Linked DNA regions of Homo sapiens. The protein of the gene in region 1 purifies or fractionates together with the protein of each later gene. This does not show direct contact. Each region holds a gene or a part of one and is shown in the gene's direction. Other genes may lie near its edges.

The links. Proteins that work in one complex are often made in the same cells at the same time.
Region 2: the proteins of AACS (region 1) and UNC13D fractionate together in Homo sapiens (co-fractionation; one large-scale study listed by BioGRID). This does not show direct contact.
Region 3: the proteins of AACS (region 1) and CMTR2 fractionate together in Homo sapiens (co-fractionation; one large-scale study listed by BioGRID). This does not show direct contact.
Region 4: the proteins of AACS (region 1) and CLIC4 fractionate together in Homo sapiens (co-fractionation; one large-scale study listed by BioGRID). This does not show direct contact.

What each region holds. Positions count from the first base shown.
Region 1 is NC_000012.12:125,134,935-125,138,434, forward strand, and holds part of AACS (acetoacetyl-CoA synthetase), read left to right. Parts: intron 1-1,727; coding exon 1,728-1,930; coding exon of another isoform or gene 1,931-2,008; exon of another isoform or gene 2,009-3,500.
Region 2 is NC_000017.11:75,827,405-75,830,904, reverse strand, and holds part of UNC13D (protein unc-13 homolog D), read left to right. Parts: intron 1-243; coding exon 244-327; intron 328-422; coding exon 423-543; intron 544-753; coding exon 754-877; intron 878-1,921; coding exon 1,922-2,118; intron 2,119-2,818; coding exon 2,819-2,940; 3' UTR 2,941-3,500. UniProt on the Homo sapiens protein: Plays a role in cytotoxic granule exocytosis in lymphocytes. Required for both granule maturation and granule docking and priming at the immunologic synapse.
Region 3 is NC_000016.10:71,286,603-71,290,736, reverse strand, and holds the start of CMTR2 (cap-specific mRNA (nucleoside-2'-O-)-methyltransferase 2), read left to right. Parts: upstream 1-1,334; 5' UTR 1,335-1,601; exon of another isoform or gene 1,602-1,799; 5' UTR 1,800-1,859; exon of another isoform or gene 1,860-2,181; intron 2,182-4,134.
Region 4 is NC_000001.11:24,797,447-24,800,946, forward strand, and holds part of CLIC4 (chloride intracellular channel protein 4), read left to right. Parts: intron 1-295; coding exon 296-405; intron 406-3,500. UniProt on the Homo sapiens protein: In the soluble state, catalyzes glutaredoxin-like thiol disulfide exchange reactions with reduced glutathione as electron donor. Can insert into membranes and form voltage-dependent multi-ion conductive channels.

The sequences.
Region 1 (3,500 bases):
GGCACAACTCTGGCCCCTTGTTCTCTGGTGTGACAGTGGACATTTGTGAGCCTGACCTCCTTTCCAGAACATACCTTGCCCACACTGCCATCCTCATAAAACCTCAAATGGGGTCTTTAAGGTCCCTTTGCCCATCCTCTTCCTCATTATAGCTCATCCTCCCGGTGAGCTCTGCTGGGCTGGTTACTTGTGTCTATCTACTCTTTTTTTTTTTTTTGGAGACAGAGTCTCGCTGTGTCACCCAGGCTGGAGCGCGATCTTGGCTCACTGCAACCTCTGCCTCCTCAGTAGCTGGGATGATAGACATGCACCACCATGCCCAGCTAGTTTTTGTATTTTTAGTAGAGATGGGGTTTCACCGTGTTGGCCAGGCTGGTCTCGAACTCCTGACCTCAAGTGATCCGCCTGCCTCGGCCTCCCAAAGTGCTGGGATTACAGGCATGAGCCACCACGCCCGGCCAACTTGTGTCTACTCTTTATGGTTGAAGAAACCAGAAGCACAGAGAGGGTTCAGGATTGCTGAAGGTCACACAGCATCATGCAGGACACCAAGCACAGAGAGTGTAGGCCTGTGGATCTCACAACTGTACAGTGGAGTCACCTGTGGGCCTTCAAACTTCCCAGCCCAGGGACCCAGACCCAGCCCAGGCCGCAGAGTTGGTCAGATGGCCTCTTATGCTAGTGCTTAGGTCAGAGTCCTAAACTTATGTCAAGGTCGTTTGTGTGGCCAGGGTAGAGAAATCCCGATGTCTGATTCCAGCCTTTTTTCCTCACTCCAGTGGAGTCCCCACCACAGGCACCTGCTTTCTTTTTTAAAAAAATTTTTTTTTGAGACAGGGTCTTACTCTCTTCACAGGCTGGAGTGCAATAGTGTGATCTCAGCTCACTGCAACCTCCGCCTCCTGGGCTCAAGCAATCCTCTCACCTCAGCCTCCTGAGTAGCTGGGTCTACAGGCGTGCACCACCATGCCCAGCTAATTTTTGTATTTTTTGTAGAGATGAGGTTTTGCCATGTTGGCCAGGCTGGTCTCAAACTCCTGAGCTCAAGTAATCAACCCACTTCGGCCTCCCAAAGTGCTGGAATTACAGGTGTGAGCCACTGTGCCCGGCCACCTGCCTCCTTTTTTGGGAGGCCGACAGGGTCTCACTCTGTTGGCCAGGCTGGGGGGCAGTGGCGCCATCATAACTCACTGTAGCCTCGACCTCCTGGGCTCAGGCGATCCTCCTGCCTCAGCTTCCCGAGTAGCTGTGTCTCCAGGTGTGTGTCACCATGCCTAACTTAGGTTTTGATTTTTCGTAGAGACAAAGTCTCCCTATGTTGTCCAGGCTGGTCTCAATCTCCTGGACTTAAGTGATCCTCTCACCTCAGCCTCCCAGAGTGCTGGGATTATAGGCGTGAGCCACCATGCCCGGCCCTCTTTTTTATCTTGAATTAATTTCTCATTAAGTAAGGCCCACACCTGGCTTCCTGGTAGAACATCACCCATCCTGCCAAACCTGAAGCTCTCTCTGCCTCCCCAGTGATGGGTTTTCTTCCGCTTGTGAAACGGCCTCCTCAGCAAATGTCCCTCCAAGGCCCTTCTCCTGGGTGGACTGGGAGAACACAGGCACCGCTGGAAGGCTTGGGGGACCCAGCCTGCCCCTCCTGCTCTGCCAGGTTGCTGTGAGGCCCGACCCCACACTGAGGGGCCCCCTGCGTGAATGTGCACCCTCTCCTGTCTCCACAGTGGAATCCTTCGAGGAGGTGGAGGACAGCCTGTGTGTCCCCCAGTATAACAAGTACAGGGAGGAGAGGGTGATCCTCTTCCTGAAGATGGCCTCCGGGCACGCCTTCCAGCCTGACTTGGTTAAGAGGATCCGTGACGCCATCCGCATGGGCTTGTCTGCGCGACACGTGCCCAGCCTCATCCTGGAAACCAAGGGCATCCCGGTATGGCCATCTCCCGCCAGCGAGGAGACCGCAGCCATCGCCCCACGAGCCCACACATTGAGGGGCGCTTACATCTGAGCAGCTTGCCGGTGCTTTATATATCGTTTGTCCACGTTGCCTAGCAACGCCATCCTCTCCCTGCCATCCTTTTTCCTACCCTTCCTAAGACTGCATTTAAAGCAACTTCTGCTAAATACCCATGTTCAGAGGGTTAGCAGGCCCAGCCCTGCAGGTCCAACTGGCTTCTCCCTGCTATCCCCTGGTTTTAGTGTATTCTCAAAATTTTTAATGAGAACATTAATTTTAACTTTTTATTTTTTATTTTATTTTTTTGAGACTGAGTCTGTCACCCAGGCTGGAATGCAATGGCTCAATCTCAGCTCACTGCAACCTCCGCTTCCCAGGTTCAAGCAGTTCTCCTGCCTCAGCCTCCTGAGTTAACTGGTAGCTGGGATTACAGTCACATGCCAGCATGCCTGGCTAATTTTTGTATTCTTAGTAAAGATGGGGTTTTGCCATGTTGGCCAGGCTGGTTTCAAACTCCTGACCTCAAGTGATCCGCCCACCTCAGCCTCCCAAAGTGCTGGGATTACAGGCGTAAGCCACTCTACCCAGCCAATTTTAACTTTTTAAAGTGCTGCTGGGAGCCGTTGCTGTTGCCTTTTAGTTTTAAGTTCTGCTGGTACAGACAAGACTTGACTCTTTTTAGAGGCAGGTCTTCCTAAGGCTGTGTCGTCATCCCCCAGCCCCTGGCCCCAGTACGCTCTGCTTTGATTCTAAGTGGGGGAGGAGGAGGGTCACCCAAATTGGATCACAGCTTTCATTTGCATTGCTTACAAAACGGATACCCCGCAAGCTGACAGAAGCTGCTGTGTGTGTGTGAGTGTGTGTGTGTATGTGAATGTATACAACAATTTAGACAGTGGCAGGCTGTATTTGAAGCCTATGGAATGGCTATTCGTTAAGGAGAAGATGGGAGCACACACTCACTGGGTTCCCAGGGGAAGCTGACTTTGATGTTGCCCGGGAGCAGGGCTGATTCTGTGAGGTGTAACTAGAGACAGGATTTACCAGGAGAGTCTGCTTCCTGGAGAATGTTGAAATATCTGATGCCGTTTACTTTGAAACCCGTAGATCATTCTCTTTGCCTTAAAAGTTATTTCAACATCTTCAAAACAACCTGTCCAGGAGTGGGGGCTGGGGAGAGCGCTTGCAGCACGACAACGGTGTGCAATCCCTGATCATCCCTGGAAGACTGACTCCTACTCGGGACCCTGTTCCTCCTCCTCCCGGCGCCTGTCCACATCTGCGCTGACTCCCACTCGGGACCCCTGTCCCTCCTCCTCCCGGCGCCTGCCCGCATCTGCGGTGTTGGTTGCTTTTTGTGGTGTCCACACGTTTCCTTTGTGTTCTGGTTCTGCATGGGAAGAGCCCTGCAGCTTGGGGCTTTCCATCCATCTCTTTCTTTTTCCCTTATTTTTGGTTGGTGACTCTTGGCGGCTCTCTGTGGGGACACTGATGCTCTCCAAGAAGGTACTTCTTGAATCAGTGACCCTTATTGTCTTTTTCT
Region 2 (3,500 bases), on another chromosome or scaffold:
CACAGGGGCCCTGTGTGCCCGCATGGGGGGTGGGGTCGGGGAAGCACGCCTGTGAAGCCAGCCCTGTCTGTGCCTCTCCTGCTGTCTGTCTGGCCTGAGGGTGGCCCCAGCCCGTTGTCCCATGACCCAATACTTTCCATTTCAAACGGACATGTTACCCTTGACAGTGAGCTCCTGGAGGGCAGGCCTGGGCTGTGGTTGGGCGTGCAGTCCAGGTGGATCCTCAGCTGTATGTGTTCCCAGGCTCTGCAGAGGGACCTGGAGCTGCAGGCGGCCTCCAGCCGGGAACTCATCCGGAAGTACTTCTGCAGCCGAATCCAGCAGCAGGTGAGGCCCCTCCCTCGCACTGCGCCCTCTGCAGGCCCTGGAGCACCCCGCTCCCGCTGTGACCCTGCTGACCCTGCCCCTGCTCCCCACCCCAGGCAGAAACCACCTCTGAGGAGCTGGGGGCTGTGACAGTCAAGGCCTCCTACCGCGCCTCTGAGCAGAAGCTGCGTGTGGAGCTGCTCAGCGCCTCCAGCCTGCTGCCCCTGGACTCCAATGGTGAGTGGAGGCTGCCTTTGGCCACTCTCCATGGTCCCGTCCTGGCCCTCCTGTCTCAGCGACCCTGGGGGCTTCGCTCACCCTGCAGGAGCTCTGGGTGCATTTCCTCCAGTTACCAGGAGGGGTCAGTGCCGCTGAGCAGAGCATAGCTGCTGGGGTGGGGTGCCTGGGAGACCCTCAGCTGACGCACACTCCCCGGCCACTTACCAGGCTCCAGCGACCCCTTTGTCCAGCTGACCTTGGAGCCCAGGCATGAGTTCCCTGAGCTGGCCGCCCGGGAGACCCAGAAGCACAAGAAGGACCTTCACCCATTGTTTGATGAGACCTTTGAATTGTGAGTGGGTCCCGTTCTTCTCCCAGTCCCTCCCCTCATCTCTCCCCACTGGGCTCCCTCAGGCCTGCTCCTCCTGGCTGGGGCCAAGGGGCTCCCCTGAGATGGCCACATTTGGGCCCAAGGGATGGGGCATCTGGGACAAGAGTTTGCAGCTGGATGTGGTGGCTCACACCTGTCATCACAGCACTTTGGGAGGCCGAGGCAGGCGGATCACTTGAGGTCAGGAGTTCAAGACCAGCCTGGCCAACAGTCTCTACTAAAAATACAAAATTAGCCGGGCATGATGGTGGGTACCTGTACTCTCAGCTACTCGGGAGGCTGAGGCAGGAGAATTGCTTAACCCAGGAGGCAGAGGCTGCTGAGATGGTGCCACTGCACTCCAGCCTGGGCGACAGAGTGAGACTCCATCTCAAAAAAAAAAAAAAAAAAAAAGAGGGCCAGGCGTGGTGGCTCATGCCTGTAATCTCAGCACTTTGGGAGGCCAAGGCGGGCGGATCACGAGGTCAGGAGATCAAGACCATCCTGGCTAACATGGTGAAACCCCGTCTCTACTAAAAACAAAAAATTAGCTGGGTGTGGTGGGACACGCCTGCAGTCCCAGCTACTCGGGAGGCTGAGGCAGGAGAACCACTTGAACCCGGGAGGCGGAGGTTGTAGTGAGCCAAGATGGCGCCACTGCACTCCAGCCTAGGTGACAGAGCAAGACTCCGTCTCAGAAAAAAAAGTTTGCTTCCCTTGGGGGAAGGGGTGGACTCCCAGGTGTTTAACTTAGGGACTTCCAGGGAAGGGTCCTGTCTCTGAGGTTCTCAGTAACCTGCTCCTAGTTCCTCAGCACAGGTGAACAGGGAACACAGGACCGCTGGTTTAAAGCATCAGCCCACGGTCAGAGCAGGCATTGCACCACATGGCTGAGAGGTGCCAGGCTGAGAGCTGGCTTTGCAGTCCAAACCCTGGCTGGTTCCCAACACCAAGTGGGTGAACCCATGTGCCGAGGCTGGGGTGGCTGTGCTGGGGCTGGCAGCAGAGCCCTGACTCTCCCCGCAGCCTGGTGCCTGCTGAGCCGTGCCGCAAGGCTGGGGCATGCCTCCTGCTCACCGTGCTGGACTACGACACGCTGGGGGCCGACGACCTGGAAGGCGAGGCCTTCCTGCCGCTGCGTGAGGTGCCCGGGCTGAGTGGCTCTGAGGAGCCTGGTGAGGTGCCTCAGACCCGCCTGCCCCTCACGTACCCCGCACCCAACGGTAGGCCTGAGCCCAGGGCAGGGTGGTGCGGGGACGGGAGCCTGTAAAGCTCAGGCAGGGGCCCCAGAGAGGTGATGCCAGGGTCGGAGAACAGCTTCCCTGGAGACGGGAGCCAGTGGGACAGCCACGGCCCATCTCTCGGTCTAATCAAGAGACCAGTGAACTTTAAGCTAAGTGTAACGTGACTCTCCTTGCATGGGGAAGTCACCAAGAAGTTTAACTGGGGAGAAGGGCCTGGATCTCACTCGGCGGGGCCGCTTCCCTGCAGAGCATTTTTGATACCAGCAACGGTCTGATGCTTGTGCACTTATTATGAGCAAGTGCTAAGCACTTTATGCATTCCAGCCAACGAAGCAGATATTAGCACTCTTTTACAGATGAGTAAACCGAGGCATGAAAAGGTTAACTTGCTAGCTTTAGGTTCTCGTATAAAAAGGTAATAGTCAAACCTCAGGCACATCTCAGCCCCTCGCTGCAGTCAGGACAGTGTCCCAGCAGCACTCTGTCTGTTACGCGACCCGACCGGATGCGTCTGTCAGACCACCTCCTGGGCTGGGCTGGCGCGGGTCTGTCACTTGTTTCCTTCCAGGTTGTTGGGGAGATGGAGCAGTGTTGTGTACCCCCCCACACACTCTTCTCTGCCACCACCAGGCACTGCCCTCTCCCCTGGCATCTGACCCCCAAACCCCTCTCTCCGCAGGGGACCCAATCCTGCAGCTGCTGGAGGGCCGGAAGGGTGACCGAGAAGCCCAGGTCTTTGTGAGGCTGCGGCGGCACCGGGCCAAGCAGGCCTCCCAGCATGCCTTGCGGCCGGCACCGTAGCCGTAGAGGTTTGCGGTGGGGCTGGGTCCCCGGTGGGGACTTGCAAGGGCTTTCCTGTAGGGTCTGGGGCTTCCCCGCCACATCGCGGCCCTCCAGCCTGGCCTAACACTTGGGGAGCCCCAGCATGCGGAGTGCCCAGAGTGCAGACCTCCCCTGCCTCCCATGGTGATGGGGGCTCAGCAGCGACATCTCTACTCCCGCCTCCCTGCCTCCAGCCCTGGCTGCAATGTCTCTACCACATCCCAGCACCAGGGGGAGCAAACCCTGCCCCTGCCCGCCTCTCAGAAAAGCTGCTGTGGTGGGCAGGGGATTGGGCCATCTGTCTCCTGGCCCTGGCCCATCTGCCTCCTGGCCTTCCTGTTCCAGCCACTGGGGTGGGGGCCAGGTTCACTGGGACCAGGGCTACAGGCACAGAGTCTCCTGGAAAAGGGAGAGGGGACCCTGCCAAAGATGAGGCTCCAGCTGCCCTGGGGGGAGGGTGGTGGCCATTACTAGAGGGGGCCTGGGTCCTCTCCCCAGGGGCTGCCAGCATCCAGGCCAGGAAGCCTGGAGCCAAGAAC
Region 3 (4,134 bases), on another chromosome or scaffold:
ATGTCCTCTTTTTTTCCCGAGACGGAGTCTCGCACTGTCGCCCGGGCTGGTGTGCAGTGGTGAGATCTCGGCTCGCTCCAACCTCCGCCTCCCGGGTTCAAGCGATTCTCCTGCCTCAGCCTCCCAAGTAGCTAGGATTACAGGCGCCCGCCACCACGCCTGGCTAATTTTTTGCATTATTAGTAGAGACGGGGTTTCACTATGTTGGTCAGGCTGGTCTCGGACTCTTGACCTCGTGATCCGCTCGCCTCGGCCTCTCAAAATGCTGGGATTACAGGCGTGAGCCACTGCGCCCAGCCAAAGTGCATGTCTCTTTTCAACGTTTGCCTTCTGGGCTAGGCGGCTTGGCTCATGCCTGTAATCCCAGCACTTTGGGTGGCCGAGACCAACGGATCGCTTGAGTCCAGGAGTTCCAGACCAGCCTAAGATAGGGAGATGCCATCTCTCTAGGAGGATCGCGTGAGCCCGGGGAAGTTGAGGCTGCAGTGAGCCGAGATCGAGCCACTGCACACCAGCCTGGGTGAGGGTAAGACCTTGTTTCAGTAAACAAACAAATAAATAAGTTTGCCTTCCGTAAGGTTTCTAATAACGTTTTTCTTCCATCCACAGATGTAAACCTGTTTCCCCATAGTCACACCAACAGTGGTCATTACCAAGGTTTTACATCTTTGCTAAACCGAGTAAAAAGAAAACTTGCTGTTTTCATTTCCATTCTTGTCTAATAATAGTTTAAACAGTTTTGTATATCCTTAGTGGCTATTTGTTTGACTTTTTTGTTTTTTGGGAGGCCTGTTCTAATATTTGCTCATTTTCCTTCTGGGGTTGTTGGCCTTTTTCTTATTGGCTTATTAAGCAACATAATTAATATATATTATGTCATGTATATATAAACAATCTTATCTTGCAGTTCCCTAGTTTGGCTTTTAACCTATCGTCTTTTGAGCTGCAGTTTCAACCCAGTCTGTACAGGAAGTAACAACTGTCCAGAAGAGTCTGAAAGCCCTTGGGGCCAGCAGCCAGTGAGCGGAACCAGCACGTCCTGACAGACAGGTTTGCCCCGTCCCTTCCCTCCCTCCCCCTCCCCCTCCCCTTCGCCTCCCTGTCCCTCTCCCTTTCACCCCTCTTCGGGACGGAGCCAAAGAATGCTCCGCCTGCGCGCGCCGCTTCCGTTGCCATAGTGGCCGGGGGCGGGAGGCTGGCGCCTCCCAGCTTCTGTACTCCGCGAAGCAAAACCTAGGGAGCTGAGGCCTAGGCGAGGCGAGAGTCGCCGGCGTGCGTAACGTTGGCGCACGTGACTCCGGCCCGGCCTACAGGGCGCGTGCGCAGTGGGACTTGAGTGCCTCCTGGTCCCTGTCTGCCGGCATTCGCGGCTGCGGGGCCCGGAGGTGGGACTGGCTTCCCGGTGCCGCGAGGGCGGGTCCGGACAGCCTTCCCCCCAGTCCGGCGCACCATCTCCCTGCCTTGTGGCTGGAGGCGCCGCGGACCCAAAGGGAGGGACCATCCCGGGAAGCAGCCCCGAGAGCGGAAGTGCAGAATGGCTTCCTCGAGAGAGTAAAGTGCAGCCTCTCCAGACACTGGGGCCCCAGTGGGCGTGGGCGAAGGTAATCCAGGCCTGGGTACGATTCCGGGCCCTCCTTCGACTTCCCAGCGGGTGAGCCAGGGGCTGGGACTGAGTTTCCTCCAGGTCAGGGACCGGGCCTCTGGAGTGGGGTTTGGGACTTACTTCACTAGATGAAATGAGATATGGGGTGCCCGGCCCAAAGTCAGCCCTGGATACTCACTGGCCGTTGTTTTCACAGTTGCTGGTAGGAGGAGTTGGCGGAAGCACTTGGAACTCCTTTATAAGTGTCAGCTGTGAGGTAAAAACTGTTGATGAGATCTTGTGGGTTTTGTTTTGGGTTCACTAATTTGGGCGGGGGCTACATAACTGCCTACTTGAGTTTGCAATATGAGAATGGTAATAGCGACCCACTTAGCAGAATTATGATGTCACAAAGCTCAAAGGACTGTTTAATGAAAGGCTCAGAGGATCATATACTGGAAAATTTTTCCACACACGCTGTAAGCCACATGCTTTTTTTTTTTTTTTTAAGTCATGCATTTAAGTGCTGGAGTGAAGTTGAGGTGCACTATTAATGACTCATATTCAGAACCTGAAGAGAGAGATCCCTTTTGTGCTAAGTATGATATCCACTCATTTATTCAGTAATACTGAGTGCTTACTGTGTACCAGGCAATGTCCAACTTCTTGGAATGGTCTATGTGTAAACAAAACAAAGATCTCTGTCCTGTGGAGCTTACATTCTAGTTTGGGGAAGACAAATAATAAACAGTAAACAAAAAGAAGGAAGTTATAGGTTGGAAGTACATGAGTACCATAGGAAAAAAATACAGCGAGGTAAGAGGCATGGGGAATGCAAGATGCAATCTTAGGTAGGCTTCACTGAGAAAATGACATTTGAGCAAATATTGGAAGGAGGTGAAGGAGTTAGCTGTGCTGACAGCTGGGGAAAGAGCATTCCAGGCAGAGGGACCACCAATGCAGAAAGACTTTTGTCTTGGAATGTGCTTGGTGTCTTCAGTGAACAGCAGAAAGGCCTGTTTGGCTGGAGTAGTGAGTAAGGGAGTAGTAATAAAAATTAGGTGGCAACACAGCAAAAGTATAGTCAGAACGGTGGAGTGTCTGAATCACTTAAGTTGTCCTCATGTGAAGGTAATTTCCTATTAGCTTAGGTAAGGTTTCACAGCTTAACTACAGCCGTTAATTAGTATGTGAAGTTAATGATTAAAATTAGACTTTTTCCGAAATAGAGTATAGATGAGATCTAAACATGGCTGTAGTTTCCAGCAAGCACAATGCGAATTAAGACAGAGGAGCTTGTTGAAAAAAACTTTTATATGCCCTTATTTTAAGATTTTAGTGAATGTGGAAACACCTCAGTTTTGTCTTCCTTTAGAAATTTGTCTAAATATAGCTCTACCAGTAAAAAAGAAACAAACAAAAAACAGGCATAGTGGCTGACACCTGTAATCCCAGCACCTTGGAAGGCCGAGTTGGAGGGATTGCTTGAGCCCAGGATTTTGAGACCAGCCTGGGCAACAGAGCAAGACCCCATCTCCACAATTTTTTTTTTAACTAACTGGGTGTGGTGGTGCACGTCTGTAGTCCCAACTCCTTTGGAGGCTGAGGTGGGAGGATCCTTTGAGCCTGGGAAGAGGTCAAGGCTGCAGGGAGCTATGACCTGTGCCACTGCACTCCAGCCTGGGTAGCAGAGTGAGACCCTGTCTCAAAAAAAAACTTTTTTTTAATATAAATATACCGTGGCAAACAAATGACTAAGAAGACACCTGTTACTTCAAGGAAATTACAAACTGGTAGAGTAGACTTGCAAATAATTTAAACAAAATAAGAAAGAATGAAAAAAGTGTGCTAAAAGAACAGTACAAAGTAAATGCTAAAAGAAACATCATCTGAATATTATTGTATGTATTACAGCAGTAGTTCCCTTTGTTTCTCATTTTGTCCTTGAACATCTGCTTTTCTGGAGTGATGATTTGATTGCCAATTTTTTCATATTTAACAAATTCAGATTTTTTTGAAAATCATTTGTAGAATGCATTGTGTATGCTAAATAAGTGCAGAATTTGTGAACTAAAGCATCTATTGATTAACATTGCACTAACAGGTACCATGTAATATTCATTGCTCTCCCTGCTGGAATTTGTAACTTTTCCAAAACTATGCCATTAAGCCATACTTCTCATATCCTTTTTCCTCTTCAGAAGGAAGAGGTTTCTTTGTTTCTGGTTTCTTTGGCAGTGTTGACTGCCAGAGTATGTAGAGTGACTATTTGTAATTTGTATATTCAATATGTATATTTCTTCAGTATAAAATTCTGCTATCCAAGTGTTAAGTTTTAGTGGCTAGAAGAAATAATGATATGTTATGGTGGAAGTGTGGAGCTGTCTGAACCATATGAAAGCCAGGAATCTATAGTTTGAGACATACCGGGTAAACAGTTGGTCACTTTCAGCATCAAGCAGAAAAAGGCTAACCACTCAAGTACAGCACAGTTTACAAGCAGTATGATGATGAACGTTAGTTGATGACCTGTATAGGTGATTGGTACCACC
Region 4 (3,500 bases), on another chromosome or scaffold:
GCCTGTAGCTCCAGCTGCTTGGGAGGCTAAGATGGGAGGTGAAGGTTGCAGTGAGCTGAGATCGCACCACTGCACTCCAGCCTGGGTGACAGAAGGAGACCCTGTCTCAAAAAAAGAAAAAAAAAAAAAAAGGCTAATGAAAGAACAAAATAATAAAGACCCAAATTTCTACTCTTCCTTCCACAATGTAACTTTTCCTGGCTTCTTGTACTCTTGATTAAAATTCAGAAAAAGTTATGTCATGTTGAGTATCATCACTTTGACCTTGTTTTTAATGTTTAATTCTGTTTTCCAGGCTGGCAGTGATGGTGAAAGCATAGGAAACTGCCCCTTTTCCCAGAGGCTCTTCATGATTCTTTGGCTCAAAGGAGTTGTATTTAGTGTGACGACTGTTGACCTGAAAAGGTAAGACATGGTCGCAGTTTGCAATCAACTTAAGCTGAACTATCTTTTCAGTTTGATCCTATTTTCACCTTGATGGCACATATTCTCTAAAGGAAATATATTGTATTAAAGTTCTGCTGGTTTATGGACAAACAACTTGTATATAACTATTTTGGACAAGTCACGCTGTCAGTATACTGCGTGGCTACTCAGTCTTTTTTAGGAACTTTTGTATGTTTACCTTAAATTTCATGAGTAGCACTAGGAGCTAAGTGTTAGTGTGGATGCAGTGAAATCCTTGACTTCTTTTTTCCAGTGTAAACATGGAGTCATGAAGAGCTTTCTAAGCAGACATCATCTTGGCCCCAAATGTGTTAAGCATGTGATCTTTATAATCTGGATCTTCAAAGACAAGGATTTTTAGGAGGTTGAATACCGTTGTTGTCAATTTCATTTAATTTATTTTTCAGAGAATAACAGTAATTTTCTATAGCATTTTAGCTATAATGCAAGTATTTTAATCATATTTGTTTAAATGTATTGTAAAATAAGAGCAATTATCTGTGGCCCGGTGTCTGTTCTTGCTAAGTGAAGAGTTGTTTGTAGGTTTCTCTCCTGGATGACTTTATGGCTTATTTTCCATAGTGGAGAGGGCTGAGAAGAGCCGTGATGAGTAGAAAGCTCTGTTTTATTCAGGAATGTCTATTCACCTTTAGCAAACAGGTCTGAGGTGAAGAACATTCATACATCCCCTTCCCCAAAAGATTTAAATCAAGGGTTAAGAATAGTTGTATTGCTCTTCCTCTCCCTCTCCCCACGGTGTCCCTCTCTTTCCACGGTCTCCCTCTCTTTCCACGGTCTCCCTCTCATGCGGAGCCGAAGCTGGACTGTACTGCCGCCATCTCGGCTCACTGCAACCTCCCTGCCTGATTCTCCTGCCTCAGCCTGCCGAGTGCCTGCGATTGCAGGCACGCGCCGCCACGCCTGACTGGTTTTGGTGGAGACGGGGTTTCGCTGTGTTGGCCGGGCAGGTCTCCAGCCCCTAACCGCGAGTGATCCGCCAGCCTCGGCCTCCCGAGGTGCCGGGATTGCAGACGGAGTCTGGTTCACTCAGTGCTCAATGGTGCCCAGGCTGGAGTGCAGTGGCGTGATCTCGGCTCGCTGCAACCTCCACCTCCCAGCCGTCTGCCTTGGCCTCCCAAAGTGCCGAGATTGCAGCCTCTGCCCGGCCGCCACCCCATCTGGGAAGTGAGGAGTGTCTCTGCCTGGCCGCGCATCGTCTGGGATGTGAGGAGCCCCTCTGCCTGGCTGCCTAGTCTGGAAAGTGAGGAGCGTCTCCGCCTGGCCGCCATCCCATCTAGGAAGTGAGGAGCGGCGCCTCTTCCCGGCTGCCATCACATCTAGGAAGTGAGGAGCGTCTCTGCCCGGCCGCCCATCGTCTGAGATGTGGGGAGCGCCTCTGCCCCGCCTCCCCATCTGGGATGTGAGGAGCGCCTCTGCCCGGCCGCAACCCCGTCTGGGAGGTGAGGAGCGTCTCTGTCCGGCCGCCCCGTCTGAGAAGTGAGGAGACCCTCTGCCTGGCAACCACCCCGTCTGAGAAGTGAGGAAGCCCCTCCGCCCGGCAGCTGCCCCGTCTGAGAAGTGAGGAGCCTCTCCACCCGGCAGCCACCCCATCTGGGAAGTGAGGAGCGTCTCCGCCCGGCAGCCCCCCCATCTGGGAAGTGAGGAGCGTCTCCGCCCGGCCAGCCGCCCCGTCGGGGAGGGAGGTGGGGGGGTCAGCCCCCCGCCCGGCCAGCCGCCCCGTCGGGGAGGGAGGTGGGGGGGGTCAGCCCCCCCGCCCGGCCAGCCGCCCCGTCCGGGAGGGAGGTGGGGGGGTCAGCCCCCCGCCCGGCCAGCCGCCCCGTCCGGGAGGGAGGTGGGGGGGTCAGCCCCCTGCCCGGCCAGCTGCCCCGTCTGGGAGGTGAGGGGCGCCTCTGCCCGGCCGCCCCTACTGGGAAGTGAGGAGCCCCTCTGCCCGGCCAGCCGCCCCGTCCGGGAGGGAGGTGGGGGGGGTCAGCCCCCCGCCCGGCCAGCCACCCCGTCCGGGGGGGGGGGTCAGCCCCCCCACCTGGCCAGCCGCCCCGTCTGGGAGGTGAGGGGCGCCTCTGCCCGGCCGCCCCTACTGGGAAGTGAGGAGCCCCTCTGCCCGGCCAGCCGCCCCGTCCGGGAGGGAGGTGGGGGGGTCAGCCCCCTGCCCGGCCAGCTGCCCCGTCTGGGAGGTGAGGGGCGCCTCTGCCCGGCCGCCCCTACTGGGAAGTGAGGAGCCCCTCTGCCCGGCCAGCCGCCCCGTCCGGGAGGGAGGTGGGGGGGGTCAGCCCCCCGCCCGGCCAGCCACCCCGTCCGGGGGGGGGGGTCAGCCCCCCCACCTGGCCAGCCGCCCCGTCTGGGAGGTGAGGGGCGCCTCTGCCCGGCCGCCCCTACTGGGAAGTGAGGAGCCCCTCTGCCCGGCCAGCCGCCCCGTCCGGGAGGGAGGTGGGGGGGTCAGCCCCCCACCCGGCCAGCCGCCCCGTCCGGGAGGGAGGTGGGGGGGTCAGCCCCCAGCCTGGCCAGCTGCCCCGTCTGGGAGGGAGGTGGAGGGGTCAGCCCCCTGCCCGGCCAGCCGCCCCGTCCGGGAGGTGAGGGGCGCCTCTGCCCGGCCGCCCCTACTGGGAAGTGAGGAGCCCCTCTGCCTGGCCACCACCCCGTCTGGGAGGTGTGCCCAACAGTTCATTGAGAATGGGCCAGGATGACAATGGCGGCTTTGTGGAATAGAAAGGCGGGAAAGGTGGGGAGAAGATTGAGAAATCGGATGGTTGCCGTGTCTGTGTAGAAAGAAGTAGACATGGGAGACTTTTCATTTTGTTCTGCACTAAGAAAAATTCTTCTGCCTTGGGATCTTGTTGGTCTGTGACCTTACCCCCAACCCTGTGCTCTCTGAAACGTGTGCTGTGTCCACTCAGGGTTAAATGGATTAAGGGTGGTGCAAGATGTGCTTTGCTAAACAGATGCTTGAAGGCAGCATGCTCGTTAAGAGTCATCACCACTCCCTAATCTCAAGTAATCAGGGACAAACACTGCGGAAGGCCGCAGGGTCCTCT